7 linked regions of the Homo sapiens genome follow. The protein of the gene in region 7 purifies or fractionates together with the protein of the main gene of each other region. This does not show direct contact. Each region holds a gene or a part of one and is shown on either strand. Other genes may lie near its edges.

What was found.
Region 1: the proteins of ADNP (region 7) and PHGDH fractionate together in Homo sapiens (co-fractionation; one large-scale study listed by BioGRID). This does not show direct contact.
Region 2: the proteins of ADNP (region 7) and CHAF1B purify together in Homo sapiens (affinity purification with mass spectrometry, with the first as the bait; one large-scale study listed by BioGRID). This does not show direct contact.
Region 3: the proteins of ADNP (region 7) and PLCB1 purify together in Homo sapiens (affinity purification with mass spectrometry; one large-scale study listed by BioGRID and IntAct). This does not show direct contact.
Region 4: the proteins of ADNP (region 7) and SEPTIN2 fractionate together in Homo sapiens (co-fractionation; one large-scale study listed by BioGRID). This does not show direct contact.
Region 5: the proteins of ADNP (region 7) and TRA2A purify together in Homo sapiens (affinity purification with mass spectrometry; one large-scale study listed by BioGRID and IntAct). This does not show direct contact.
Region 6: the proteins of ADNP (region 7) and RRBP1 purify together in Homo sapiens (affinity purification with mass spectrometry; one large-scale study listed by BioGRID and IntAct). This does not show direct contact.

What each region holds. Positions count from the first base shown.
Region 1 is NC_000001.11:119,739,153-119,743,249, reverse strand, and holds part of PHGDH (D-3-phosphoglycerate dehydrogenase), read right to left. Parts: intron 2,865-4,097; coding exon 2,732-2,864; intron 1,484-2,731; coding exon 1,353-1,483; intron 444-1,352; coding exon 206-443; intron 1-205. UniProt on the Homo sapiens protein: Catalyzes the reversible oxidation of 3-phospho-D-glycerate to 3-phosphonooxypyruvate, the first step of the phosphorylated L-serine biosynthesis pathway.
Region 2 is NC_000021.9:36,391,531-36,395,627, reverse strand, and holds part of CHAF1B (chromatin assembly factor 1 subunit B), read right to left. Parts: intron 4,078-4,097; coding exon 3,960-4,077; intron 1,082-3,959; coding exon 978-1,081; intron 1-977. UniProt on the Homo sapiens protein: Acts as a component of the histone chaperone complex chromatin assembly factor 1 (CAF-1), which assembles histone octamers onto DNA during replication and repair.
Region 3 is NC_000020.11:8,138,549-8,142,645, reverse strand, and holds part of PLCB1 (1-phosphatidylinositol 4,5-bisphosphate phosphodiesterase beta-1), read right to left. Parts: intron 1-4,097.
Region 4 is NC_000002.12:241,339,558-241,343,654, forward strand, and holds part of SEPTIN2 (septin-2), read left to right. Parts: intron 1-3,434; coding exon 3,435-3,536; intron 3,537-4,097.
Region 5 is NC_000007.14:23,503,809-23,508,107, forward strand, and holds the end of TRA2A (transformer-2 protein homolog alpha), read right to left. Parts: intron 3,728-4,299; coding exon 3,612-3,727; intron 2,459-3,611; coding exon 2,330-2,458; intron 2,006-2,329; coding exon 1,938-2,005; intron 1,762-1,937; coding exon 1,751-1,761; 3' UTR 972-1,750; downstream 1-971. UniProt on the Homo sapiens protein: Sequence-specific RNA-binding protein which participates in the control of pre-mRNA splicing.
Region 6 is NC_000020.11:17,619,454-17,623,550, reverse strand, and holds part of RRBP1 (ribosome-binding protein 1), read left to right. Parts: intron 1-1,603; coding exon 1,604-1,696; intron 1,697-1,777; coding exon 1,778-1,861; intron 1,862-2,003; coding exon 2,004-2,093; intron 2,094-2,743; coding exon 2,744-2,836; intron 2,837-3,180; coding exon 3,181-3,252; intron 3,253-3,822; coding exon 3,823-3,918; intron 3,919-4,097. UniProt on the Homo sapiens protein: Acts as a ribosome receptor and mediates interaction between the ribosome and the endoplasmic reticulum membrane.
Region 7 is NC_000020.11:50,903,496-50,907,592, forward strand, and holds part of ADNP (activity-dependent neuroprotector homeobox protein), read right to left. Parts: intron 1,355-4,097; 5' UTR 1,271-1,354; intron 507-1,270; coding exon of another isoform or gene 502-506; coding exon 394-501; intron 1-393.

The sequences.
Region 1 (4,097 bases), on a different chromosome or scaffold from region 7:
CCTGGATAAGGCACTTTCCCTCTTTGAACTGAGTATCCACTCCCTGAAGGTTCTGAAAACTGGCATCAGACCCTCTGTATGGTGCAGATCCAGAGACACCCTGGGACATGAAGAGGGGCTAAAGGAAGGTGGGTAGAGTTCAATTCCAGGGCAGACCCCACCCCAGCCTCAAGGACACCAGCCAGCCCTACAGGGCCCTCCTCACCAATCATGGTAGGCAGCATTGCAGGGTCAGAGGTCTGAGTCCGGAATAGGAGCAGGGGCAGGTCCCTGCGGAGAGGCACTTCTGGCCTGAAGACAGCTCCATTGAGCCCCTGCAGTACAGGCGTAGTGCCTTGGACCAAGCCCACAGCCTGGTAAGGGGCGCCTGCCAGGGCCACGGCCAGGAGGCATTCCCCGAAGCCTTGCTCCCCTGGTGCAGCAGGGCTGTGGGAGGTGGTGACCTGTGTGGAGAAGGCAAGGTGACTGTTACACCTCCTGGCTGCACCACGTCCACCCTCCTCTCTTGGCCAAATCACCCATTGGTAGGATGTAGGGCTCCAGCCTGGATAATGTGCTCAGTAATTCAGGACCAGAAGGGAGAGGGCAAATGGGCCAAGCTGTGTGCCCTTCGGCATCAGCTTCCTGGAACAGCCAATGATCTCCTTAAAGGGAGGGCAAAGAGATCTGCCAGGCACAGGCGAAGGCTTGGAGGAAAACAGGGAGGAAAGAAAAGCAGGGAGGCAGGGCTGTGAGGAGACTCCACTCTGGCCCCTCCTGCTCTGACACAGCCTCCTGCACGGCATCAGTGGCATGACTGGCATGCAGGAGTGGAGGGGAGCAGAGGGGTGAGGACATGGCAGCTCTACTGCCTATCCCTTCTGCCAGCTCCCACTGGCTGAGCAACAGGCTTTGAAACAGACTTTGATCTAAACAGGGAACCAGAGGGGAAGGCGCCAACGGGAAGCCGTGCAAGGCAGCAGGGCTCCTAGAGCTTGCAAGTGAATCAAGAACCCGGGTGCTACGGCATGAGGAGCCCTGAGGGGAGTTAGGCAGAGTCAAACATGGCCTGGCAGCCATGTCGGGCAGAGTCAAACACACTAGCTCGTCATTTTCTTTGGCTGTGAAATGGGGACACTTCTACTGCCTCCATTCCCACAGCACTCATACACAAAGCAGTGCCATTAGCAACACTCGGGGCCAGGCAGTATCTTCATTTTGCAGTTGAAGAAACTGCAGCTACCCCTCACAGGTAGACAGGCCGATGCAAGGCTGGGACCTAGGCCTCCGCTCAGAGAACGGGCTCTGGAAATGTGGGGGAGAAGACTAGTGCTGACAGGGATGGGGAGGCAGCGTGGGGGAGAGGGGCGCACATTGAGGCCAGCCTCTTTCACCAGCAGCTTAGCGTTCACCAAGTTCACATCCGCCTGCTTGGAAGCCTCTTTCAGGAGGCCGACAATGACTGCGGGGCTTAGGCAGTTCCCAGCATTCTTCAGGGATGTTCCTGGGGACAGAGAGAAGCTACCATGAGGTCACTGTTTGTTGAGCACTACAGGAGGGGGCAGGAAGCCACTGGCACCTAGCTCTGGACTATGGGCTCCTCGCTGCCCTGGGGACCCCAAAGGCAGCTTGCTCCAGGCAGGTCCACTCGCCCTTCAGTGGGCTCAGAAGAGGCATAATCTGGGCCCAAGCCAGGAAACCCAGGATGTTTTAACCACCCTGAGAAACTCCTCTCCAAAACTCAGCTCAACTCCACTCCGCTCCCCAACCCTGCACCTGGCTTGGCCATCCTGGCCTACCTATTATTCTCCCAGGGGACACAGGAAAATTCCCTACTCTTACCCCTTCCTGGCACTCAGAGCCTTGCCAGCCTCAGGAAATCAAAGCAGAAAGAAGTAACCGAAGCAACTGCTGCCCAGCTCCCTGCCTTGTTTCCTTCGGCGCTTGGACACCCAGGCCAGTGGGACCCCCTGGCTCTGCCCTTCCCTGGTATTGTCAATGCCTAGGGTTTAGCTGCCCTCTCCCTGCAATCTCTGCCCAACTGTGAGACACCCAAGAGTCCATGGGGAAAGATACACGTCTACAGGGTTAAGGAAACTGGAGCCCTCCTTGGTCACTCAACCACATCCGCACAGTACTGGATCCACTGCAAAGGTGGCCACAGCCCACTCAGCAGCCCGAGGGGTGGTCAGAGGGCACTGTTCTCATTCCCACTCCACGGCTGAGCAAACTCTCTCTCGAGGGCTGTCAGACGGCCCAAGGTACCACCTTAGTAAGTTACAGAGCACAAAGTGTCCTCACCGCTCCTGGCTCATCTGCCCCTAACTCTCACTTTACAAGTGAAGAATCCAAGCCTCAGAAGGGAGAGTCACACAGCAGGGAAGAGACAGGGCCAAAAACCAGAATCCAGCATCCTGTTGCTTAATTAGGGCCTCCCTCCAGCCATCCTACGACCTCTCGCATGAAACTCTCTCTCTCGTAGAGGTTTCTCTTGCACCCAAAATATCTAGGTCTTAAAAATGCTACATAAACATGATTTATGAATATTCAGTACATCTTTCCAACGACTTTTTTTAACCCCTCCCTTTACCACCCTCCCACCAGTAGTAAGGGAGCTATACTCAGGGCAGGGTCCAAGGCACCCTCACTGCCTCTCACTAACCCTGTGTCCTGCAGCAAATACACCCAGCAGGGCAGATCCCACACTCCCTCATCCCCTCCTCCCCCTCCCTCTGCAAGGTCCCCAGCTCACCCTGTGTTATCACCTGGATGGTCCCTTTGGGGGACCCAGCCCAGGCTCGCATCAGTGTCCCCAGAGCTTCTGCCAGACCAATCCAAGGCTTGGTGTGTGGAGAGAAGGCACTGGTAAGGGCCTGGGCATTCACCTGCAGAGGATGGAGGAGCGGGGCTGTGGTCAGGAAGAGGCATGGCAGATCCTGAATCAAGATCTGGCTGCCAAGACCCAGCTCCACAAGAAAGACAGTATAGGGTCACTCCTGCCTTGGTGCCTGGTGGGTGACAACTTCCATCAGCCACTAACAACAGGACAAGGACTTGTTCCTACAAATGAAGAAAGCTGTGGAGCCAGAAATGGACACAGAATGCCACAACCACTCAAAATTGCTCCTTTCAGCAAACTGTGTCTGCCCCAGCCCCCTCCATGGGAGACTTGTTTCTGCACTGGGGAAGGGATTGGACAGCACAATAAAGGTGAGTCTTTGACACAAAACATATGGGAGTCGCAGATAACTTGGATGAGGAGTGACGGGTCTTCTCTGGCAGTCCCAACTTGCCTTCATTTTTATTTTCTATCTTGAATTTTTTTAAGTGTTTACATTGTTACTAAACACTACGATCAATTATCACAAAGTTTTGATGATCGTGCTTCAAATATCAACGCATGCGAAGTCCACTGTGAGGCATGTTGTGACACTGAGGGGACACAAGCCCCATATCCCCCAAAAGTTATGTCTAGGACCTGGCTGGCTGCCCCCTGCCCCACCCAGGGGCCTGATAACAGAACCAGCTTGTTCTGGGCCAAAATTTCAATTCCATTTTGTGGTTCAAAATGCTCTGGTTCTGAGTTAGGCATCTGGCCACTTTTATTGAGATAACTTGTAAAGTCAACCATCTTAGAAAGATGCAAATCAAACAGGCAGCTACAAGATGTAATTAGAAGGAAACACAGATGCTTCTCTTTCTGTTTTCATAAAGATATCATTGGAAGAATTTTTTTTTTTTTAAACAGAGAAAGAATCATGGTATGGGAAATGACTGCTGAGGCCGGGCTTCACGGGAGCCTCTCCAGTGTGGGAGGTGACAGGTCTGCAGGCTTCTTGCTGCATGGCTCCTGGATCCTCTCCAAGGAGTCACAGACAAGAAGGGTGGTGGGGTGGAGCAGCTAGCTGCTGGGAGGAGATCTGGAGCACCATGCTGCCACTGCCGGGGCTGAGGGCCTGCAGCAGCAGAGGAAAGTCCAACTAAGAGGGCCCATAACGCAGGCACCTCGGCACATCTCTCTGTCCTCTGTGTGGGCCTGCAGAGCCCAAGCCCGGGGAGGTGTCCATCACAGGGCTCCCAAGTAAAAGGAGGATTCTCAGTCTTCCCTGGTGGACAGG
Region 2 (4,097 bases), on a different chromosome or scaffold from region 7:
TCAACTAGCATGCAATGCCCTATAAATTATAAGTGACTTGTTAATCTTCCCGAGATCCTAACCTCCATAAAGGCAGGGCCCGGGCCTGTCATCTTATCTGCTGGCCCCACCATGTGGGATTTGCCTGGCTTCAGCATCAGTAACTTGCAGCACCAGTGCTAAGCCTCTTACCCTCTGACAATCCATAGCATATGGGACTAACCCCTATCCTGTTGAGCCAACCACCTACTTTAGTTCACTAAAACAATTTTTTGTGTTGCTTTTAAAGTTAAAGCAAGTAGGCCGGGTGTGGTGGCTCATGCCTGTAATCCCAGCACTTTGGGAGGCCGAGGCGGGTGGATCACCTGAGGTCAAGAGATAGAGACCAGACTGGCCAACGGTGAAACCCCGTCTCTGTTAATGATACAAAAATTAGCCAGGTGTGGTGGCAGACACCTGTAGTCCAGCTACTCAGGATGCTGAGGCAGGAGAATCGCTTGAACCCGGGAGGTGGAGATTTCAGTGAGCTAAGATTGTGACATTGCACTCCAACCTGGACAAGAGCGAAACTCCGTCTCCAAAAAAATAAAAATAAAAAATAAAGTTAAGGTAAGTTAGGGCCAGGGGCAGTGGTTCATGCCTGTAATCCCAGCACTTTGGGAGGCTGAGGCGGGCAGATCACCTGAGGTTAGGAGTTTGAGACCAGCCTGGCCAACATGATGAAACCCGTCTCTACTAAAAATACAAAAATTAACTGGGTGTGGTGGTGCATGCCTGTAGTCCCAGCTACTTGGGAGACTGAGGCAGGAGGATCGCTTGAATCTAGGAGGCAGAGGTTGCAGTGAACCAAGATCGCACCACTGCACTCCAGCCTGGGCGGCAGAGTGAGATCCTGTCTCAAAAAAAAAAAAAAAAAAAGTTAAAGCAAGTTAGACTTTTAGGCTTTTATAGATGCTTAGAATATTTCTTCCTGCTAATAACAAAAATATATCATTTACCTTTGCTGACATCCCATATGATGGCTGTGTTATCCACAGAGGCAGAAGCCATTAAATTCCCATCAGTTGCCCAGCAAATATCATACACATCTTCTAAGTGGCCCCTAGAATCCAAAAACAAAGAGGAAAAAAGCAATTACTCCCCAGGTATAGCAGCTTACCCCTGTAATCCCAGCACTTTGGGAGGCCAAGGTAGACAGACTGCCTGTGGTCAGGAGTTCAAGGCCAGCCTGGCTAACACAGTAAAATCCCATCTCTACTCAAAATACAAAAATCAGCCAGGTGCTGTGGCTCACGCCTGTAATCCCAGCACTTTGGGAGGCCGAGGCAGGCAGATCACAAGGTCGGGAGATCGAGACCATCCTGGCCAACATGGTGAAACCACGTCTCTACTAAAATACAAAAAATTAGCCAGGCGTGGTGGTGCACACCTGCAGACCCAGCTACTCAGGAGGGTGAGGGAGGGGAATCACTTGAACCTGGGAGGCAGAGATTGCAGTGAGCCAAGATCGCGCCACTACACTCCAGCCTGGCGACAGAGTGAGACTCCATCTCAAAAAAAAAAAAAAATTAGCCAAAAAAAAAATAGCCAGGTGTGGTGGCGCACACCTGTAGTCCCTGCTACTTGGGGGCTGAGGCAGGAGAATCCCCTGAACCCAGCAGGCAGAGATTGCAGTGAGCCAAGATCATGCCACTGCACTCCAGCCTGCGCAACAGAGTGAGACTCTGACTCTAAACAAAACAAAACAAAAAGCAATTATTAACTCAAAAACGGACAAGTTATCAAAAATATAAGGACAATCTCCAGAACTAAGCATTAAAATGAGATTCCAAAATTTCCACTGGCACTATATTAGCTATAGCTATAAAAAACTACTTTCAAGGATAGCTATATCTGACCGGTCGCAGTGGCTCACGCCTGTAATCCCAGCACTTTGGGAGGCCGAGGTGGGCGGATCACCTGAGGTTGGGAGTTTGAGACTAGCCTGACCAACATGGAGAAACCCCGTCTCTACTAAAAATACAAAAAAATTAGCTGGGCATAGTGGTGCAGGCCTGTAATCCCAGCTACTCGGGAGGCTGAGGTAGGAGAATCGCTTGAACCCAGGAGGCAGAGGTTGCGGTGAGCCGAGATCATGCCATTGCACTCCAGCCTGGGCAACAAGAGCAAAACTCCATCTAAAAAAAAAAAAAAAAAAAAAAAGGATAGCTGTATCTTTAAAATTGAATACTTTTTACTAAGAAAAATGTATAGCCGAAACTAAGAAAATCCATTTTAATTATGCTTTCATCCTTTAAAACTATTGTCTTAGGACTGTTTCATATAAATAAAACTTCTAAATTAGACCAGCCTGGGCAACATAGTGAGACCCTGTCTCCACAGAAATTTAAAAATCCTCTCCCTCTCCCTCTCCCTCCACCGTCTCCCTCTCCCTCTCCCGCTCTCTCCACAGTCTCCCTCTGATGCCAAGCCGAGGCTGGACGGTACTGCCGCCATCTCGGCTCACTGCAACCTCCCTGCCTGATTCTCCTGCCTCAGCCTGCCGAGTGCCTGGGATTGCAGGCGCACGCCGCCACGCCTGTCTGGTTTTCGTATTTTTTTGGTGGAGATGGGGTTTCGCTGTGTTGGCCGGGCTGGTCTCCAGCTCCTAATCGCGAGTGATCTGCCAGCCTCAGCCTCCCGAGGTGCCGGGATTGCAGACAGAGTCTCACTCACTCAGTGCTCAATGTTGCCCAGGCTGGAGGGCACTGGCGTGGTCTCCGCTCGCTACAACCTCCACCTCCCAGCCGCCTGCCTTGGCCTCCCAAAGTGCTGAGATTGCAGCCTCTGCCCGGCCGCCACCCCGTCTAGGAAGTGAGTAGCGTCTCTGCCCGGCCGCCCATCGTCTGAGATGTGGGGAGCGCCTCTGCCCCGCCGCCCTGTCTGGGAGGTGAGGAGCGTCTCTGCCCGGCCGCCCCGTCTGAGAAGTGAGGAGCCCCTCCGCCCGGCAGCCGCCCCGTCTGGGAAGAGAGGAGCCCCTCCGCCCAGCAGCCGCCCCGTCTGGGAAGAGAGGAGCATCTCTGCCCGGCAGCTGCCCCGTCCAGGAGGTGGGGGGCAGCCCCCGCCCGGCCAGCTGCCCCGTCCGGGAGGTGGGGGGCGCCTCTGCCCGGCCGCCCTGTCTGGGAAGTGAGGAGCCCCTCTACCCGGCCGCCACCCCGTCTGGGAGGTGTACCCAACAGCTCACTGAGAACGGGCCATGATGACGATGGCGGTTTTGTCGAATAGAAAAAGGGGAAATGTGGGGAAAAGATAGAGAAATCAGATTGTTGCTGTGTCTGTGTAGAAAGAGGTAGACATAGGAGACTCCATTTTGTTCTGTACTAAGAAAAATTCTTCTGCCTTGGGATGCTGCTAATCTATAACCTTACCCCCAACCCCCTGCTCTCTGAAACATGTGCTGTGTCAACTCAGGGTTAAATGGATTAAGGACGGTACAAGATGTGCTTTGTTAAACAGATGCTTGAAGGCAGCATGCTCCTTCAGAGTCATCACCACTCCCTAATCTCAAGTACCCAGGGACACAAACACTGCGGAAGGCCACTGGGTCCTCTGCCTAGGAAAACCAGAGACCCTTGTTCACTTGTTTATCTGCTGACCTTCCCTCCACTATTGTCCTATGACCCTGCCAAATCCCCCTCTCCGAGAAACACCCAAGAATGATCAATAAATACTAAAAAAAAAAAAAAAAAAAAAAAAAAAAAATTTAAAAATCAGCAGGGCATGGTAGCATGCACCTGTAGTCCCAGCTATTTGGGAGGTGAGAGGATCACTTGAGCCCGGGAAGTCAAGGCTGCAGGGTACTGTGATCACAGTACAGCACTCCAGCCTGGGCGACAATGAGACCCTATCTCAAAAGAAAAGAAAAAAAAAGTCAAAAGGTATATTCCATTTAATGCACTCATCGTAAACAGAGATCACTGCCATGGTCCCTCCCAAGTTACCGCAGAGTCTTCACAACCGTCCAGTTCTCCTTGTTCAGCTGGGCCTCGTCCTCATCCTGAAAAGCGATCTGCTCCGGCTCCTTGTTATCATTCACCTTCCACAATAGGATGACAGCATCTGCAGGGTGATTCAGTAAC
Region 3 (4,097 bases), about 43 Mb from region 7:
TTCTTTAAGGGCTTTTCATTGCAATATTTGGGTGTATGGGTGAGCATATTTTTCAGAAAATAGGAACTAATGGTAAAATTTAGAATATGAGAAATAAATACATTAAGCATCATCACCTTCAACCAATATTGAATTGCAGTGTAGTATACACTCAATCTTAAGACATATTTGGACCTTAAATGAAATCAGCACTGTAACAGCAGTGAGCTCTGCATTGCCAATAAATAGTTTCCTTCTCAAACACACATGGAGAAATCCCATTTAAGAAGGTCACAGAGTCCCTTAGGACCCTAGGAGATTTCAGATGGAATGGAAGGACAAGGAGCAAGGTGTTCCAACCAATGTAACACAACACCTCAAAGGTCACGAAGGTCTCATAGGAGCATGACTGCCCTCCAGGTCTGCCTCAAGGCTGCACACTCCCCTGTGTGAACCCACTGTGAGCCAGACAAACACCAGACAGTTCCTTCATTCCACAAATATCCCCTGAGCATCAGCACCTCCCAGTGCCAGGCCTATGCTCTCCCCTAGGGAAAAAAATAATAATGATAATTATAAAGCTATAGCCCTCCAGAAGTCCTGCTCTAGTTGTAATATAAACAAGGCCTATCTACCTCCCTGCACAAGTAATATAGATCTGGCCTCTCAGTTGACACTGTCTTGCATTCTGCATCGTGCTTGAGAGCAGGCAACTCACCCTCTACATTTCCTTCATGTCTACCATATTCTTGTTCTTCCATGGTCCATGATTTCTATGAGAGGCCATGGGACAAGCCTAAATAGGAATCAGCAAAAGACAACATTTACACGTATGTCGAGAAGAAGAAAAGGTGGAGTAACAGATATAAAGAGTCTTGCTGAATGCAGAAATGTCACTTACTCGACAATGAAAAAAAGACCTTTAACACCATACCTGAATACCTGTCTTTCCACATGCATGTTTCCACGCTGACTGACTGATGTAGAATATCTTTAAAGACTATAGAGCATACATTGCCCCCTCCTTTTTTTTTTTTTTTTTTTCGGAGTATCGCTCTGTCGCCCAGGCTGGAATGCAGTGGCGCGATCTTGGCTCACTGAAACCTCTGCCTGCCTCCTGGGTTTAAGTGATTCTTCTGCCTCAGCCTCTCGAGTGGTCGGGATTACAGGTGTGCACCACCACACCCAGCTAATTTTTGTATTCTAGTAGAGACGGGGTTTCATCATATTGGCCAGGCTGGTCTTGAACTCCTGACCTCAAGTGATCCACCTGCCTTGGCTTCCCAATATGCTGGGATTACAGGCGTGAGCCACTGCGGCTGGCCTGCCCTTTTTGTCTCAAAGCAGCAATGAGGTTTTCCAATGCTCACACATCTTGCACAGTGTAGACAAAAACGGACTGTACATACACCATGAAAAAGAGCTATTTTGAAGACAATAGCTCAAAAACTGAGTTTGCAGGGATCTAAGCTTCATATGTATGAATCCTAAAAATAACAGAGATTCTTTGGAAAAGTCTATCAATCTCTTCAAACTTGTATTCATTTAGACTCTATTAAAAGCTTTTTGTTGGCCACGTTCGGTGGCTCACATCTATAATCCCAGCACTTTGGGAGGCTGAGGCGGGTGGATCATGACATCAGGAGTTTGAGACCAGCCTGACCAACATGGAGAAACCCTATCTCTACTAAAACTACAAAATTAGCTGTGCGTGGTGGCACAAGCCTGTAATCTCAGCTACTCAGGAGGCTGAGGCAGGAAAATCGCTTGAACCGGGGAGGCAGAGGTTGCGGTGAGCCGAGATTGCGCCATTGCACTCCAGCCTGGGCAAAAAGAGCAAAACTCCGTCTAAAAAAAAAAATAAAAAAATAAAAAGTTTTTTGTTGTTGTTGTTGTTACTAAAAGGACCCTGTTCGGGGACATCATGGTAGACTGGAAAGGACACTGAATTTGGCCAGAAGACGTAGTTTTAAATTCCTATTCCAGATCTACTTAGTTATGTGCCCTTCGACAAATCACAATCACTAGCCTCGATTTGCTTCTACGTGAAATGCAAAAGACAAACGCTTGCTCTTTTTCCTACCACCCGAGGTGGTCTTAATGACTGAACAGGGGTAAGCAGGGCTGCTATATAAGCATGAATGCCTGCTATTAGGACTTAGTCTGGATTTTGAATTCCAGAGGAAATATTACAGCAAAACTTCATTTTACTCAACAGTAGTACTGAAGGAGAAAACTATGTAGGATACTTAGATGATTATTATATTTAGGACTGAAAGCTGTGAAATCCTAGAACCGCAAAAGGCCATATCAGCCAGGATTTGGTGCGAGAAACAGAAATTTCTCTTGAATTTTGAAGATAAAGGGACTTAATATAAAGTAAGCACTTGACAGAAAAACTGGAAGGGTTGGAGGAGCAGGCTTTAGGTTGGCTCTCCATGAATGATCTCAGAACATAGCAGCACAGACCCTTGGGGAGAGCTATTGTATCTACCACATTCAGAAAGGTGAGAAATCAAGAAGGAACTCCCGGGGTCCAAACAAAACACCAGCTTTGTTGAAGCCAAAGAAGTGTAAGCTGCCAACAGGGAGTGGCCACTGTCACCACTGCCTCTCAGAGACACTGAAGAACTATTACAGAAAGTCCCACCTCTTTTAGCTTCTCACGTATCTGTAGAAACAACCCAAAGGATGCAGGAAATTGGCCCCTTTAATGTTTCTGCCCTCCATATCTCATATGCATGAATTTATTTGGTGGAAATATTAATTTTCAAGAAGAATGTTCGTCAAAAAGGAGTCTGGTAAATGTAGCTTTAGAAGTCCAGATTTTGTATTATAAGAAGTCCTACTAAGAGGATGTAGGAATCGATGCTATGTGAGATTCAACCATATCCAACACAGCACACCTGGGGAGGATCATGATTGGCATCTTTAACATTTTTTGACCAGATCAATTGCTGATTCGCTCTATGGTTTTCCAGCTTCATGAGCTTGTATGGCTTCTTCTATAAAATGGATTAAAATTAAATTAAATTTCCCTTACTCTTAACTATTTCATAGACAACTTCCAAAAAAAATGTTTTTTTTAATGGCAAAATAATATCTTAATCTTCTAGATATCAATGCTATATATTGATATCCATGTGACTACTTCAGGTAAATGTTTTCTTTACTAACTAATCCACTTTCTGTGATCTTGTACATTAAACGTCAATTCAGTAAAAAGAAACAGAACATTAACCAAATATTGTAAACAAAAAAAGCCCTTGAAGGCCGGGTGCGGTGGCTCACACCTGTAATCCTAGCACTTTGGGAGGCCGAGGTGGGCAGATTACCCGAGGTCAGGAGTTCCAGACCAGCCTGGCCAACATGGCAAAACCCCCGTCTCTACTAAAAATAAAAATAAAAATAAATTAGCTGGGCATGGTGGCATGTGCCTGTAATCCCAGATACTCCGGAGGCTGAGGCACGAGAATAGCTTGAACCCGGCTGCAGAGGTTGGCAGTGAGCCGAGATGGTGCCACTGCACTCTAGCCTGGGTGACAGAGCAAGACTCTGTCTCAAAAAAAAAAAAAAAAAAAAAAACCCTTGAAATAAAAGACAGATGTAGGATGCTTTTATTTCTGTTTTAATATAAATAAAATAATTTTAGTATAAATAAAAATAACTTTTTTCCAATTTTATATAATAGTTTGTTACTCAATTTATAATAATTTAGTTTCTTGATAAATGCATAGATTTAGTCAACCTCAATTAATAGGTACATGCAAACCATTTTTGGAATACAAATTGAAATAAAAATTTTGAGAATTAACACATGGTAATGATAATAAAATCGAACATTAGCTCTTAAAGAGATCAGAGGAAAACCAGAGAGACTCTTAAAGAACATAAGCATCCTTTATAATCTATTCCAATTAGTTAGTTCCTTTATATCCTATTTCAGTTAGTTAGTTACAAAAATCAATGGCTTTTTTATGGTCATATATGTAAATGACCTCAGAAATATGTCTATATTTCCTTTGCCTACTTACACATAGGGGCACAAGGCTCTGCTTAGGGGGATCAGACATAGAACAGAAAGGGAAAAGATTAGATGGAAAAGACTGTGAAATATG
Region 4 (4,097 bases), on a different chromosome or scaffold from region 7:
ATTCTTCCTGGATGCACAGCATTCCACCATATGAATATACTCTAACTTGTCCAGTTTCCTGCTGATGAATATTTGGCTTACTTTTTGTTTTACTCTGGCCCCTTTTCTTCTTTGACCAAATTTACTGTTTCTTTGCCCCTTGCTCGCTGCTTTTGCTAGTGATACCCTCTGCCTGGAACAGTCTTCCCTCAGATACCTGTGTGGGGAACTCCCTCACTGAGCCCAACGCTGCACACAAGATTTCACATCTCCATCCCCTGCTCTGCTGGTAGCACTCCCCCCACACTGCATAAAGTATTTCTCTAGCGTGTTTTTTGGCTTCTCCTGACCCCTGACCCCAGGTCCTGAGATCAGGAATCTGCTTTGTTCACTTATGTATTCCCAGAGTTCCGAATAATGTCTGGCACATAATAGATTTGTTGCATAATTGTTGTAATGAACACTGGTGTACATCTATCTTTTCACAATTGTGTGAGCCAAACGAATTCTTAGGAAATAAGTATACATTTAAATTTTTGAAGGATGACTAAATTTGCTCTAAAGTAAGTTTGTAACAATTTACATTTCCAAAGTGTACTCTTCTCTCCACCCCCTAAAACTGTCCTGGTTATGTTGCCAGTTTTTGTAATGTGTTTCCTGTCTGAGAAATTGTATCTCATTTGAATTTGCCTTTCCTTGATTGCCGATGTGAGTATCTGTGCTGGTGTTGATGCCGGTTGGTGTATTCTCTCAGGTTGCAGGGACTTGGCTCTTGCTTTTTTATTGACTTAACACATATACTTATTTTTAGATGTTGACTATCACGTTGCAGATGATTTCACCTGGTTTGACTTTCATTTTTTCACATTTTTCTTGGTGCTTTTTTCCAAAGCAATTTTTAAGCAGCATGTAGTCATGTTTGGCAGCCTTTTCCTAAATTGTCTCAAGTGCCTGCCAGTTTTTTAGAAAGTATTTGAACCTTTGAAGAACCCCTGGAAGCGTAGACGTTTTTATGCTAATAAATACTTTAGTAATTCCTACTTAAGGGAACTTCACCTTTTGTACTCTGCTATATTAAATTTCTTTGAGGTAGAAATGGGGGTGGTGTCAGGGTTAGAATGCTGTAATTCTAATCTCTAATCCTGTATGCGAAACATTTAGTGCTGGATTACAACATCTGAGATGAATCGAAATACTTCGAGCTTTTATCCCTTCCTTCTTGGGCCTCATTAATCACTTCTCTTCCTCCAGTTTCTCCTTGATGCCTACCAGTTTGTTCATTCTGCCCTATCTACAAGAACCTCTTGCCTCCTGCCAGCCTCTACTAGCTTCTTGCCTTCACCAGCCTTTCTTCTAGTCAGACACTTACTGGTAGCTGTTATCTGCCCTCCCCATGATCCTGTTCACTCAGGCTTCCTGTCATCCACCTGCAATTGCTCTCTCATGGGCTTGGCCAACAGTTCAGTTCTCAGATGTGGGCCCCACCTGTGGGGTTTGTGTGATTGGCAATTCTACTTCTGAAACTTCCCTTCCTTGGCTGCTGAACCACTGTGTTTGCTTTTCTATCTGCTGTTTTTTACCACCTTCCTTCCTGATCCCTGAAGGTCAGTATTCCTTAGTATTATTTTGATCACATTATTTCTGTGGCTTCTGATTTGCCCTTCCAGGTATCTTATTTCTTGTTGTGAACCACATTTACCCACAGGAGTCCTCTTTTGACCACTGATGGACTCCTGTCCTTCCAGCTCCCCTGTCTCTTTAAATGGTCCCACAATTCTTGAAATCATCCAGACTGAGAAATGTGTAAATTATTTTTTACTCATCACTTCTGACTCCTCTGCTCACTTTTAAATAGCTTACTAACTGTTTCCGAACTCTTCTCTCCTCCAAAGTGTAAGCTCCATCTTTATGAGGCCAGCATAGGACAAAAGATGAGGTTAGCATGGATGGATAGTAGACCAGGAAAGGGGCCGTAAGATGAGGACAGGTGAGCAAGTTCATGCTTCTTATTGCTCAGTTTCTCCCAGAGATAAGATGGTTCCTCCCATTTAGGAATAAGGATTTATGAAAAGACTGAAGGTCGAGTTACAGAGTAAAGGATGTAGAGAGGAGGGCCTTTTCTGGAGTTCTGAATTAGTGCAGACATTGTACTAAGACCAAATCTCTGACCATTCAAGGCCCTTTTTAGGTCACATTAAGGCTTTCCATTCTTAAAAACCAGAAAGCAAATCCAGTGCACAGTTTGAGGTCGGGATATTTTCTGCTCACGTTGCTCTTGTTCTCTCTTCCCTGAATGGCTCAGGTACTGAGGTGAGACCAAACAAAACTGTGGCCTGCCTGGTGCCTGTGAGAATGCCCACCATGCAATGAGCATTTGAGTGCTAGGGTTTTAATTGATTGACTGATGAATGCATTCGTATTTCAACTTCAGCCCAGTTCTTTCTCCCCTCAAGCCCCATCCCCCACACTACTGCCTGCTTGATAGGTCCGATTGTGGGATTTCACTGCTGACTGCTGGCTGCCTGTTGAATGAAATACAGATCCCCAGGTCGCTAGCCTGGTGTTGATGGAACTCTCCACTTTGTAATTCCAATTTTTGTTTCCTTATCCAACTGGATGTCTTAGATTCCAACCTTTTGAATTTCTTATTCTCAAAATGCACCCCATGTGTCCTCTCTGTGCCTTTGACGAGGTTTTGTTTTTTTTTCTTTCTTTCTTCCTTTTTTTCCATCTGGGGTACTTCTCCCTTCTCTCTGCTTTTAAGACTCCTGCCTGTTCTCCAGGGTCTTCTCATGCCTGTAGCTTCTCTGTGGCAATTACCCTTCTTGAGGCTGATTGTGGTGTGATTTCCATTTTAGCTGTTGTGCTGGGGCTATCGTTAGTCTTCCTGCTGCTTTGTACATTGAGGGTAGTGGTGCATTATTGCTAATGTTATTTTTATTCTGTACAGAGGATCCTCAAAATTCAAGTATAAATACCTTTCTAGCAGTTTTGTAAATTTTTTTTTTTTTTTTTTTTTTTTGAGACGGAGTCTTGCTCCGTCACCCAGGCTGAAGTGCAGTGGTCTCAGCTCACTGCAAGCTCCGCCTCCCGGGTTCACGCCATTCTCCTGCCTCAGCCTCCCCAGCAGCTGGGACTACAGGCGTCCACTGCCACGCTTAGCTAATTTTTTTGTATTTTTAGTAGAGACAGGGTTTCACCATGTTAGCCAGGATGGTCTCCATCTCCTGACCTTGTGATCCACCTGCCTCGGCGTCCCAAAGTGCTGGGATTACAGACGTGAGCCACCACACCCGGCCGCAGTTTTATAAATTTATTTGACAGTAACTTTCGTCATCAGTTTGATTATTGACATTTGTATGATTTCCAATATATTTCTTACAAGATGAGCTAGAATTGGCTACAATAACATACGCAGTTTGCTAAAATTGATCCTGGTTTTGTCATTCTCTCAGATTCTGGATGAAATTGAAGAACATAACATCAAAATCTATCACTTACCTGATGCAGAATCAGATGAAGATGAAGATTTTAAAGAGCAGACTAGACTTCTCAAGGTAAGAACTGGCTTCAGATCCACAACATAAATAACTCCTGTTTACTGTTGTCCATGTTGAGGTGAGAGAGATTGCCTGGGTATGTTCAGTTACGAGAGTATTTTTGCTTTCAATATATTTTAAGACCTCATGCAGTGGCTCATGCCTATAATCCCAGCACTTTGAGAGGCCAAGGCAGATGGATCAGTTGAGGCCAGGAGTTCCAGACCATCCTGGCCAACATGGTGAAATCTCATCTCCATCAAAAATACAAAAATTAGGTGGATGTGGTGGTGCACACCTGTAGTCCCAGCCACTCGGGAGGCTAAGGCAGGAGAATCACTTGAACCCAGGAGGCAGAGGTTGCAGTGAGCCGAGATCGCGCCTCTGCACTCTAGCCTGGCGACAGAGCAAGACTCTGTCTCAAAAAAAAAAAAAATTTGATACAGCTATCACCTAAAGCTTAGAAATTTTATTGTAGGTTTAATTTGTTTTCGTACAATTTGTCCCATGTAGAAAGTATCTGACACTTTTCAAGAAAATGTTACATACCCCCAGCTTTCCAATTCAGTTTTGTAGTCA
Region 5 (4,299 bases), on a different chromosome or scaffold from region 7:
TCTTTTACATTACAGTTATTTAAGTGTGTTTCCTACTGGAATATATTTAGACTTCTTAAGATATTATCTACCTATAGGCCGGTCGCAGTGGCTCACGCCTGTAATCCCAGCAATTTGGGAGGCTGAGGCGGGCATATCACGAGGTCAGGAGATCGAGACCATCCTGGCTAACATGGTGAAAACCCTCTACTAAAAATACAAAAAATTACCCGGGCGTGGTGGTGGGTGCCTGTAGTCCCAGCTACTTGGGAGGCTGAGGCAGGAGAATGGCGTCAACCAGAGAGGTGGAGCTTGCAGTGAACTGAGATCACGCCACTGCACTCCAGCCTGGGCAACAGAGCGAGACTCTGTCTCCAAAAAAAAAAAAAAAAAAAAAAAGTAGGCCGGGTGCAGTGGCTCACGTCTGTAATCCCAGCACTCTGGGAGGCCAAGGCATGTGGATCACAAGGTCAGGAGATCGAGACCATCCTGGCTAACACCGTGAAACCCCGTCTCTACTAAATACACAAAAAATTAGCCGGGCGTGGTGGTGGGCGCCTGTAGTCCCAGCTACTCGGGAAGCTGAGGCAGGAGAATGGCGTGAACCCGGGAGGCGGAGCTTGCAGTGAGCCGAGATCGCGCCACTGCACTCCAGCCTGGGTGACAGAGCAAGACTCCGTCTCAAAAAAAAAAAGGTATTAGCTACCTATCTTTCCTTCAGCATGGTGCTGGTACTGAATATTCTCAATATTTACAATTCGGTCTCCCCCAAAAGAGAAGAAAAACAAGGGTTTTAAAAGAACCAAAGAAAAGACAAGGAATAACATTCTAGTGTAAGAAAAAATATTTTTAAAAATGAGAAATATTGGGAAGTTAAAACTCAGGATGGGTAAACTTTCATATAAATACACACTGGGGGGATGTGAGGGAAAAGGAAGGACCAGTTCCTCAATCATATTTCTCCATGGTACCACAATAAAGAGACAATCCCATTTTCAAAGAAATTAGCTTTTATTTGAGACTACTTTTCCCCACATGTATCTTTTAAGAATTCTATGCTATGTGATAACCTGCTTATCCACTGTCCCAATACCAAAATTTCTAACAGCGAATTATACAACTGCTCTAGGTAATAAATAAGGGTTGTCCTTCACTGATTAAGGGAATAAACTTCAATAAACTTAACAACAACAAAAAAAATCACACTTTAGTTTTTAAGTTTTAACAGATGTATTTCAAATACAGCATGTTTTACAGGAGTTCACAAGCTTTTCATCTCTAAAAAAAAACTTTCAACTACCTGACTGTTCCATTCCACCCCAGACAAACCTGACATGACTGAACTACTTCATGTGTTACTTTCCCAAAAATAAAGTTAAAAAAAAAAAGGAACTCATGATAAATGCAGATCTCTAATACAGTATCTAACACAAAAGAAGCTTTAAAAAGACAGTTTCTTTCCTTATTTGATTAGCTAGAAGTTTATCTAGGTAAAAGCAAAAAAAAAAATTTACAAAGCATAACATAACATTGGGGTTCTTTTTATACTCAAGATGTTTAACTGTTCAAAATGACAACAATTACATCTTTTAAGAGTATAATAAAATGGGTGGAAAACAGCAACACAACTGACAAAAGTGTAGATGCTAAATAAACCAAAGTTTTTTTCTTAAGGAGTAGGAAGAATCCACAGCTTGGGGAAATCTCAGAATTAAAAAAAAAAAAAAAAAAAAGAGGAAAAAAAATGTCCTTAATTGCAACCATTCCGTTATCAATAGCGTCCTAAAAGAGAAAAAGCAAAAAAAAAAAAAAAAAAAAAAAGTTAACAATTATAGTTTAATTTGCCTCATATTTTTCCAACTATTAACTGCCACCTTCCACCTTATACTCTAATATTCTAAAGTAAGCCATTAATTAGAAATGAGGTTTTTTATGCTACAAAAGTAAAGTTCACATACTTGGGCTGTAGGAACGAGATCTTGATCGTGATCTATATCGACTATAATAAGGAGAAGGTGATCGTCTTCTGTAAGAAATGAAAGATTACTTAGCATACTATATAATCACTCCACTGAGGCAGATGAAAATAAAAATTCCTCATCATTCAAAATAATAATGTACCTAAGGTGATAACTACTTAATATTAAGTTCTCTTTCTGCCAATGAGACCAGAAAAGTATATAGCACAACAAAATACTGACATATACAGACTGCTAACTTCTGCTCCCAAAGGCGTCATATATGATCTATTTTAAAAATCAAGTTTTTATTCATATGTATCCAACATAAAAGTGCCAAGTAACACTACTATCATCTAATTTAGAACAGAAAGCTCAAGTTAAAACATTACCTGTATCGGTAATCATAGTCTTCATATCTGTCATACCCACGATCATATCCTCTATCATAGTAAGAATCTCGACGTCTGCCACCACCTCCACCTCCACCGCCGCCGCCTCCTCCACCACCCCCACCACTACTGCAGAAAAATGTAAAAATTCTCCATTAGTGTGAATGACTATTTTCCAGGACACTTTAATACAAATTGAATGGCTTAAAAAAGAGAAAAGTGAGGAAGAACATCCCTTTCATGAGAAATTGCCTCCGTATCTCATTTTACTGACTCCCATGGTATTCTGGTTTGCCTTATTCCCTACATACATAATCAAGAAGGGCTTCACAAAACTCTCAAAACTATTAACTGCTTTTCTACTAATGCACTGCCCAAATTAAAATCTTTTCAACAAATTGAAACGATGAAGCACTGTGTTGAGCAGCAGTATAAAAATGCTAAGATGCATTCCTACTGCTAAATGAGACTGGTAAATAAATAAATAAATGAATAAAAGGTGTATCCCTGTGACTAAAAGGCAATAAACACCAAGAATTTTTAAGTAACTCTGGACACCAAAGAGAATACCAAGGAATGACTATATTCCTTCTTTTATTCCCAAGAAATACCTCTGTGAATACTGCCTTTGGTTGTATATTTTATTTTTATTTTTTGAGACGGAGTCTTGCTCTGTCGCCCAGGCTGGAGTGCAGTGGTGCGATCTCGGCTCACTGCAAGCCCTGCCTCCGGGGTTCATGCCATTCTCCTGCCTCAGCCTCCTGAGTAGCTGGGACTACAGGTGCCTGCCACCATGCCCAGCCAATTTTTTGTATTTTTAGTAGAGACGGGGTTTCACCGTGGTCCCGATCTCGTGATCTCGTGATCCACCCGCCTCGGCCTCCCAAAGTGCTGGGATTACAGGTGTAAGCCACTGCGCCCGGCAAATGAACATCGTGAGCCAGCCAGGAGGGTTGTATATTTAAAAACATTATCAAAACCCCTACTTATGTTTTTTTTCTTTTTTGAGAAAGAGTCTCACTCTGTTGCCCAGGCTCACTGCAACCTCTGCCTCCCAAGTTCAAGTGATTCCTGTGCCTCAGCTCCCGAGCAGCTGGGATTACAGGCATGTGCCACCACACCTGGCTGATTTTTTATTTTTTTTTAGTAGAAGCAGGGTTTTGCCATGTTGCCCCTTGCCAGAATCAATTCTAATTATAGGAAAAAAGTTTCTGAGTAATCAAAATTTTGCACATATTTCTGGTGGATTTCATAGTTTAGCTTAGGAAACTTGAACTCTTACTGAGTTGGTCTGCCCATGTAGATGCCTGGTGTTGGTGTGTGCGCTCTCTTGGTTATAGAATAATCCACCCGAATTCTTCTACCATCCAGCTCCATTCCATTTGCCCTTTCCATAGCCTATAAAGAACAGGCACAAAAAGTCACGTATAATTCACCAGTCTTGAAGTAATCATTACTTAAAATTAAGCACAAAGTATATGTAATCCAAATAAACTCCTGATTTTGAAAATGACAGCAATGTAGCTTGTACAGGGCATTGTATAGACAATTCTAGACCTCAACAATGTCCAGAACACATTTAAATTTACTCAGCAGAAAGAGTAGTTAATAAACTTTCCCAAATAATTTTCCAGTTCTGGTTCAATTCCCATTCCCCACTCCATGAGATCAACAAAGAGTAGTTAACAAACTTTCCTAAATAATTTTCCAGTTCTGGTTCAATTCCCATTCCCCACTCCATGAGATCAACAGGGGAGCGGAGACTGAAGTCTTTTCAAGCTAAATTTTTTGTAGGTTGCCCAGGTAGACTGCCATTTCATACTTTCTAGTCTCCAGCGATTTCACTTACAAAGACTGACTTCAGAACATTAAAAAGGGTTTGCTAAGCTTTATACATGTTCTTTTTATAACCTGCCCCCAATCTTATTCTTTAGTTTGCAGTCTAGTACACTGATTAAGACTCAGTGAGC
Region 6 (4,097 bases), about 33 Mb from region 7:
GGGGCGTGTGCAGGTGTCTCCCAGTGTCTGAGCCCACGGGTTGCTTTTGGGGTGCTGGGCTGTCCAGGAGCCAGTGAGGAGGCTCTGGCCAGGGGACATGGCCAGCAGCAGCTGCAACTAAAGGCCCTGCCCACACTTTGAGGTCACACACGTTTTCCTACCTCATGAAAGGGCCTCCACTCCCAGCCTCTCTCACAGGAATATCTGCCCCAATGGCAGGAGCTTTGCGGTGATTCCCAGGAAGCCTGAGGGTTGTATCAGATGAGGACAACTAGCTAGGGCAGGAGGTGAAGGATGGCCTCAGGCCACCCTGTGAGAGCTATAGTTAGACTCCTAGAATCTTGGCCTTGTAGCCCCCAGTGACCTCAGAGACTGTCTGGCTACCATGTGGTAAATGAAGCTGTGACCAGAGATGTCACCTGACTTGATTGTGGTCACACATCCAGATAGAAGGTGGCCTCTGGGTCTCCAGCTTGCCTTGACTCACAACTAGAGGCCTCAGTGGTGGTCGTGAGGTCAAGGGTCCACATGGGTCACGGGCCCTACCTGTGGATAACTTGGCCAGCCAGGAAGGGCCCGCTTCTCAGGTGTGCGTCAGGCCAGAGGGCGCTGCGCTCAGGCTGGGTGTCCGGTGGTCAGCATCCTTCATGCACATTCCAGGACTCTGCTTGGGGGAGTTAACACTCCATCAGCTCTGATCCAGGTGGAGTTCCTGGGGCCTCCCTGGGTCTTAGGCCAGGCCTGTCCAGGTGGTGGCAGGGCCAGACACAGGCTGTTACCCCAGCAGCCTTCCCCTCGGGGTGTGGGAGAGCCCAGCTCTCTCCCGGGGGACACTGTGGTCCTAGGCTTTGCTTCATGATTCCCTTGGGCCCCCTTTGTTTCCTTTTGTTTCCTTATCTTTGTTGTGCTTTGAATGGGGGCCGCTGGCTCTTCGTTGAGGACTGAGGGGGTGTCCGACCCAGCATGGCACAGGGTGCAAAGTCCCTGTCTCCTCTGAGTGGGCTTCTCCCTCTGCAGAGGGGGAATGCTGATCCACCCTCTCCAGGGTGGCTGGAGATGAGCCTCTCTGGGTTGCCCCTTCCTGGCTGCCACTAGCCCCTAACCGTGGTGCCGCCAGCAGACGCACTGCTTCCCTGCCTTCACCCCCATCCCCATCACAGCTCTAGATTCCAAAACATTGGGGGCCATGAGTGTCCTCCCATCCCTTCTTCCTGCCCTGGCTCTCACACATCAACTGCGGACCCCCCAAATTCCCCCACACATGCACACATGCCCAGAGAGCTCGGGAAGTGAGAGCTGGTGGAGACTGTCCCTGCTGGGAGATGTCCCGGGAGCTGGCACCTGCCATCTTGGCCTGACCCAGTATGCTCCTTTCATCAGAGCTTAGTCTGTTTGAAATGGACCAGATACAGGCTGGGTAACCCCTCTGCTTACAGTCAGCCCCATGGAGCCTCATCTTCTCCTTTGATTCTTGTCGCTTCCCTGAAGAGCTGAGGATGTGCCCTTTCTGGGGCAGAGACCCGGGCATATCAGTAAAGACCTGGGGAGGTGCCCCACACCTCCACAGCTGAACACCTTCCGCTCTTCCCCACCCACCCCCCAGGAGGAATCGGAGAAGCAGCTCTGTCTGATTGAGGCGCAGACCATGGAGGCCCTGCTGGCTCTGCTCCCAGAACTCTCTGTCTTGGCACAACAGGTAGGAGGGGAGGGTGGTTCCCGGGGACCTCACAGTTCTCAGGGAATGTCCCCGGGTCTCACCGAATGTGTTTCATTGCAGAATTACACCGAGTGGCTGCAGGATCTCAAAGAGAAAGGCCCCACGCTGCTGAAGCACCCGCCAGCTCCCGCGGAGCCCTCCTCGGTAAGTGTGGCTGCCTGGCAAGGCTCCTCTGTTGGGCTCCCCTGTCCCCAGGAAGAGGGGCTGCCCCAAGTCATTTCAACGGGAAGCCAAGAGAAGAACCTTTGTGTGTGGCTAACTAAACACCTGTTCTTCCCTCTCTCAGGACCTGGCCTCCAAGTTGAGGGAGGCCGAGGAGACGCAGAGCACACTGCAGGCCGAGTGTGACCAGTACCGCAGCATCCTGGCGGAGACGGTGAGCATTGGGAACCTGTCAGCTGGGCATCCCTGGGAGGCTGCAGGGAAGGAGAGCTTCGGGGCCTATGGGGCAGGAGGTGGCCTGGTGTTTTGGAAAAGCCCACTGGCCTTGTGACTCTGGGCCCCGTTCTTCGGCTGCATGGTAAATGGATGGCACCCTCTGAGGTCGTCATTGTTTCTAAGCTGAAGAGAAGGCCAAGTTGAAGGTTCGGGGCCGGTCTCTAAGCTGGGGAAGGGGAAGGACGGGGTAAGCAGCTGGTGACTGCCAGGTTGAACCCCGTTTGTGACTAAGAGCAATGCCAGGTCTAGCCCTGCCACTCTCTGGCCAGCCCATCCTGTGCTCCTCGTCCTGGGCCATTGACACACTTGGTGCTGGTGGCAAACCCCGGCAGTAACAAGCATCCTAGTGGTCCTGTGCAGGTCACAGACCTCATTTCCTTGCCTGGCACTGCAGCCACACTGGCCCACTGGCCAGAGGACCTCCCTCCCAGGACAGTGGTTGCCTTCCCTCCCCACCTAACGCTGGCGCTCATGAAGTCAGCAGGCGGAGCACGGCAGGTCACCAGGGCTGCAGGGACAGGAAGATGCGGTTGTGTGGTGCGGGTCTCGGGAGGGAGAGGGCCCTGCCTCACCTCGGTTTCCCCCCAGGAGGGCATGCTCAGAGACCTGCAGAAGAGCGTGGAGGAGGAGGAGCAGGTGTGGAGGGCCAAGGTGGGCGCCGCAGAGGAGGAGCTCCAGAAGGTATATGCAGCCCTGCCTGCCTCCCGGCGCCGTGGAGCACATGAAGCCCAGGGGAGAGTTGACAGGATTGTCTCTGTCACCTGTGAGACTCGTGTGTCTCGGTGGGGCTTTTCCACGACACCCTATGAAGCACAGTTGCGGGATGACAGCTCAGTCCGTCCTCCAGGAGGCCCCCGCCTAGGAAGACACTGCCAGATGGCGCCAGGGTGACCGTCCCAGCTGGGCGGAGTGGGCACCCCCGGGGCTTCCTAAGTTGGGTCAGTCCCGCTCGGGTCCTAGCATGGCCTCGGAAGGAGACACCCCCAGGTGCTCGTGTCTGACGGAGCCTTCCCCTTGCTTTGTAGTCCCGGGTCACAGTGAAGCATCTCGAAGAGATTGTAGAGAAGCTAAAAGGAGAACTTGAAAGTTCGGACCAGGTATGTGCTCTGCTCAGAGAACTCTTTCTCTTGTCCCGGGAGCCTCTTTGAAAGTGACGTTAATGCAGAGGACACTTCACTGATTTCTTCCTCATGGACCGTGTGCCTTAAGAGAGGCATTCTCTCTCAAGCCAAGGGATCTTGTCCATCCTGTTTTTCCTTAATGAGAGACATTGACTACCTCAGAGGACCCTGAGACCCAGCCACGGGCCCTGTGCAGACCTGCCCAGCCCTGGTGAACAGGGCTTCTGCCACGGCCTTCACAGTCAAGGTGGCCCCACTGCCCCCTTCAGACGCCACAGGGAGCCCTGGAGAAGGTACCCTTGGTACCTGCTTTTGCAAGTAAATCTAAGAGCATGTCAGTCCCCAGGAGTGCCCGGGTGCAGCCTGCCACTTTCCGTAAGGGGTTCTCTTGCCGCGGACTAGTTTCTCGTTTGCTTGGTAGCTGGTGGGCCTCAGGGATCTCCCGAGAGGCCTCACCTATCCCAGGGCCAGCCTGCTCCCTGAGGTGAGTGCCCTTTGAGCAGAGGCTGCTGGCGCATGCGTGTGCGTGTCTGTGCATCTGTCCAGGTGAGGGAGCACACGTCGCATTTGGAGGCAGAGCTGGAAAAGCACATGGCGGCCGCCAGCGCCGAGTGCCAGAACTACGCCAAGGAGGTGGCAGGGGTGAGTCTGCCCCCCAAGGAGTGCAGCCCCTGCCCAGCAGATCTGCGGTCCTCCCTGAGCTGCTTCTCCTCAGCCCTGTGGGAGCAGCTCTCGGTGACATAAGCCTTGAAGTCCGAGTCCTCAGGCGTTTGCCCGAAGCCTCACAGGCCCCTCGTTGGGCTGTCAGGCCTGAGGTGTCT
Region 7 (4,097 bases):
TTTGAGTCCCACAGACACTGCCACTTTCTCAGCTGCAAGGCTGGGCCTATTTATTTGTTCTTCATCTGTGAAGTGGAGATAAGAACTGCTACACTGCCTCCCGCCTCCATGGTTGTTCTAAGGATTAAATGTATAGACAACTTTACGGCACCTAGTTCAACGCCTGACATGCTTAAGTCCTCAATGGTAGCCTTCTGCTTCAGGATGCAAAAATGAAAAAGCCCATTTTAGGGAGAAAGGCACAAGTTAATGCTATTGAGAATGTTTTCGTGAAGCTACTGCTGTGGCTGAAATTCAGAATCACATCTAAGATTTAGCCATCTTGGCCACTGACACAAAGTAATGGATCAGAAGCTGAGTCATGTTAAAATTTAAAAATGACATGCTACTTACTTCTATATGTTCTTTACAGTATTCCAACCCAATGTCACTAAGTATTTTTTTCACAGTTTTCCGGGCTTTTCTTAAACTGCCAAGATTGTTGACAGGAAGTTGGAACATAGTTTCTATTGGAAAAAAAAATTTAAGTCAAAGTCAAAACACGTACAACTTGTAATATTTACTAATTCCACTGATGATAGGATCATAAAACCTACCCATCTGACAAAAAAGGTGCATAGATATCCTCATCTAGTGTGTACACACACAGACACACACCTGCTTTCATGTGCATATGGCTTGATATATCCATCCATCCATCCTTCCTTCCTTTTCTTAAGACAGAGTCTTACTCTGTCGCGCAGGCTGGAGTGCAGTGCACTCATGGTTCATTGACTGCAGTGCACTCACGATTCACCATAGCCTCAACCTTCTGGGCTCAAGTGATCCTCTCACCTCAGCTTCTCAAGAGGAAGGGACTCCAGGAGTGCGCCACTATGCCCAACTAATTTTTAAAATTTTTTTGTAGAGACTAGGTCTCACTATGTTGCCAAGGCTGCTCACAAACTCCTGGACTCAAGCCATCCTCCTGCCTTGGCACCCCAAAGTGCTGGGATTATAGGCGTGAGCCACTGAGCCGAGCACATATCTACTATATTTTGAATACTTAAAGCAGGCAGGCAAAATAAGTACTCTCTGATTTTCCCAGTTTTTAACAGGACATTTTGACTATGAGTCTAATCTGGCATAATTCTGATAAGACTTAACAACAGTTCAGTAATGAACTTCAAGATGAAAATTAGAGAAATACTAGCAATCAATTATTTTTAAATCAAGTGTTAGTGCTTTTCTCATTTTGATGTTGAACATCTGAAAACAGAAAAATGCTTACCAGTTCATCATCATTACAGTTTTGAGTGCCAGGGTAAAGAGGTTTTTGTTGAATTGGAACTGTCCTGCCTACTGCTACGGTATTCTTTAAAACAAAAACAAAAACAAAAACAAAAACAAAAAAACCTTAAGTTTCTGTATACTCCCCAAACTAAATACAGTAATGATATGTGACTCGACCAATGCATGCCCCCACTCCACCCCTGCCTGCAACGTACCTGGGCAAAGGTACTCAAAAATGTTAACTGTTACAGACTTTAAGGAGGGTACTTTTGAAAAAAATGAAAAGCCTGTATGTGTCTAAGGGAACTCAAAAATTATTTTAATGACCTAATACATTAAATTAGAAATTCATATCAACTTTCCCAAGTTCCTTAAAACAGAAGTTTGTCTTTAATGAGAAAATAAAATCAGTAAAACCTGGGCAGCTGAGAATATGTATGGTTTCTAATGAGATCAGAAATGCTTCCCATAATATGGTAAAAATTTATCAATTTAATAATCCAAATCTAACACAATTTCGCAGGATATAAAGTAGTTCTAAAACCCAAAACAGCAAAAACAAAAGACAAAGCACCAGGAATTAAAATTTAATATATGCAAATCCAGTTTTCTAATTAACAAAGGCTGTTACTCTGTAATACCAATATCATCTGTAAATGGCAAGTCAACTAATCCAAATGTAATAAAATGCTGCCTCATTTATTATTCTAATCCAAAATCAACGTTAACTATAAAAAAATGGAAAATAAAAGGAGAAAGAGTGAAATCTACCAAAATCAAAGAGTAACCCCTAGAAATTTTGAAACTGGGTACGTTACTCTAACTTAGAAGTCTCAAAATATTCTATATGAAGTACCAAAGTCTAATTGGGGCCGAAAATGAAAAGTATTTCAAAAAAACCTTCTAGGCCTTATCATACTCAAGATAGAATTGCTGCTCACTATGAAGCAATGACTATGGTGTCCCCTGCTCTCTCTGCTATGCTAATAATCTGCATATTGTGAAGCCAACTACAGACTTAGAAGTCACTTCTGATATAAATTAAGACCAAATCAATTATTTTTTGTCCAAATTTTATTGCTAAATTGTTTTAAACCATCTTTTGTGGTGGCTTAAAACCAGCAAATTCTTTATCACTTGCTTAATTTAAAACAGTTAGTACACACTGGGCATGGTGCCTCACGCCTGTAATCCCAACACTTTAGGAGGCCGAGGAGGGCAGATCACGAGGTCAAGAGATCGAGACCAACCTGGCCAACATGGTGAAAACCCGACTCTACTAAAAATACAAAAAATTAGCTGGACGTAGTGGCACGTGCCTGTAATCCCAGCTACTCGGGAGGCTGAGGCAGGAGAATCGCTTGAACCCGGGAGGCAGAGGTTGCAGTGAGCCAAGATCGCACCACTGCACTCCAGCATGGCGAGAGCGAGATTCCATCTCAAAAACAGACAAACAAAAAACACATACAGTTACTACAAACCAGGTCTTTTAGAGAGAAGCACATGTTAGAAAAATATTTCAGAAATACAGAAAAGTGTCACAGGCTAATTCTGAAGAAACCAGGTATTAAAATGGATGCCCACAGATACCTAAGACTGGGAAGAGACATCTTGTTTCTCTGTTCATTTCATAAACTCTCTATGGGCCAAAATTCAGTTCTTTGGGAACTTCCTGAGTTAACTCTGCTTCACACTTCATAACAGATGTGTCCAGAAGCCAGCCATTAATGGTTTCCCTGCCTCCTGGATGAGTGGCTCAACAATCTCAGAAAAACAAAGACATAAAGATTTGGAAATGCAGCCACCACTGGGGTCATTAGTCTATAGAAAACATAAAAAAGAATCAAGCGGCAGCTTGGGGGAAAGAAAAACCCATTCTTCTAAGTGCCTACCCACAGCTTAAAAAGTCGGTTTAAGACATTAAGATGAAGCATCTCACTGCCTGGTAGGTATTTTTTTCTGAAAAAGTGAGTATGCCCATAAGGGAACTTAGTTGTAAGAAACTTGTAATTTATAAAAAGCGGTATTTCAGCCACAGAGTTGGTGTTGGGTTTACTTATCTATTTTGAATTTAAAAGGCTTATAAATAAAGCAGTGACACTGCTTACTGGGAAATGCTGTACCAAAAAATGTTATCTTGCTGTAGGCTTGGCAACTAGGAGAAATCTGTATTTTTTTTTTGAGACAGGGTTCCAGTTTTTTTTTTTTGTTTTTTTTTTTGAGACAGTCTCGCTCTGTCACCCAGGCTGGAGTGCAGTGTCACGATCTTGGCTCACTGCAAGCTCCGCCTCCCAGGTTCACACCATACTCCTGCCTCAGCCTCCTGAGTAGCTGGGACTACAGGCGCCACCACCATGCCCAGCTAATTTTTTGTATTTTTAGTAGAGATGGGGTTTCACCGTTTAGCCAGGATGGTCTTGATCTGACCTCGTGATCCGCCCATCTTGTGATCCGCCCATCTCAGCCTCCCAAAGTGCTGGGATTACAGCCACCGCGCCCGGCATTTTTTTTTTTTGAGACGGAGTTTTGCTCTTGTTGCCCAGGCTGGAGTGCAATGGCACAAATCTTGGCTCACTGCAACCTCTGCCTCCCAGGCTCAAGCAATTCTCCTTCCTCAACCTCCTGAGTAGCTGGGACTACAGGCGCGTACCACCACATCGTGCTAATTTTTGTATTTTTAATAGAGACAGGGCTTCACCATGTTGGCCAGGCTGGTCTCAAACTCCTGACCTCAGGTGATCCACCTGCCTCAGCCTCCCAAAGTGCTGGGATTACAGGCGTGCACCACCATGCCTGGCCAGGAATGTATGTTCATGTTAACTCAC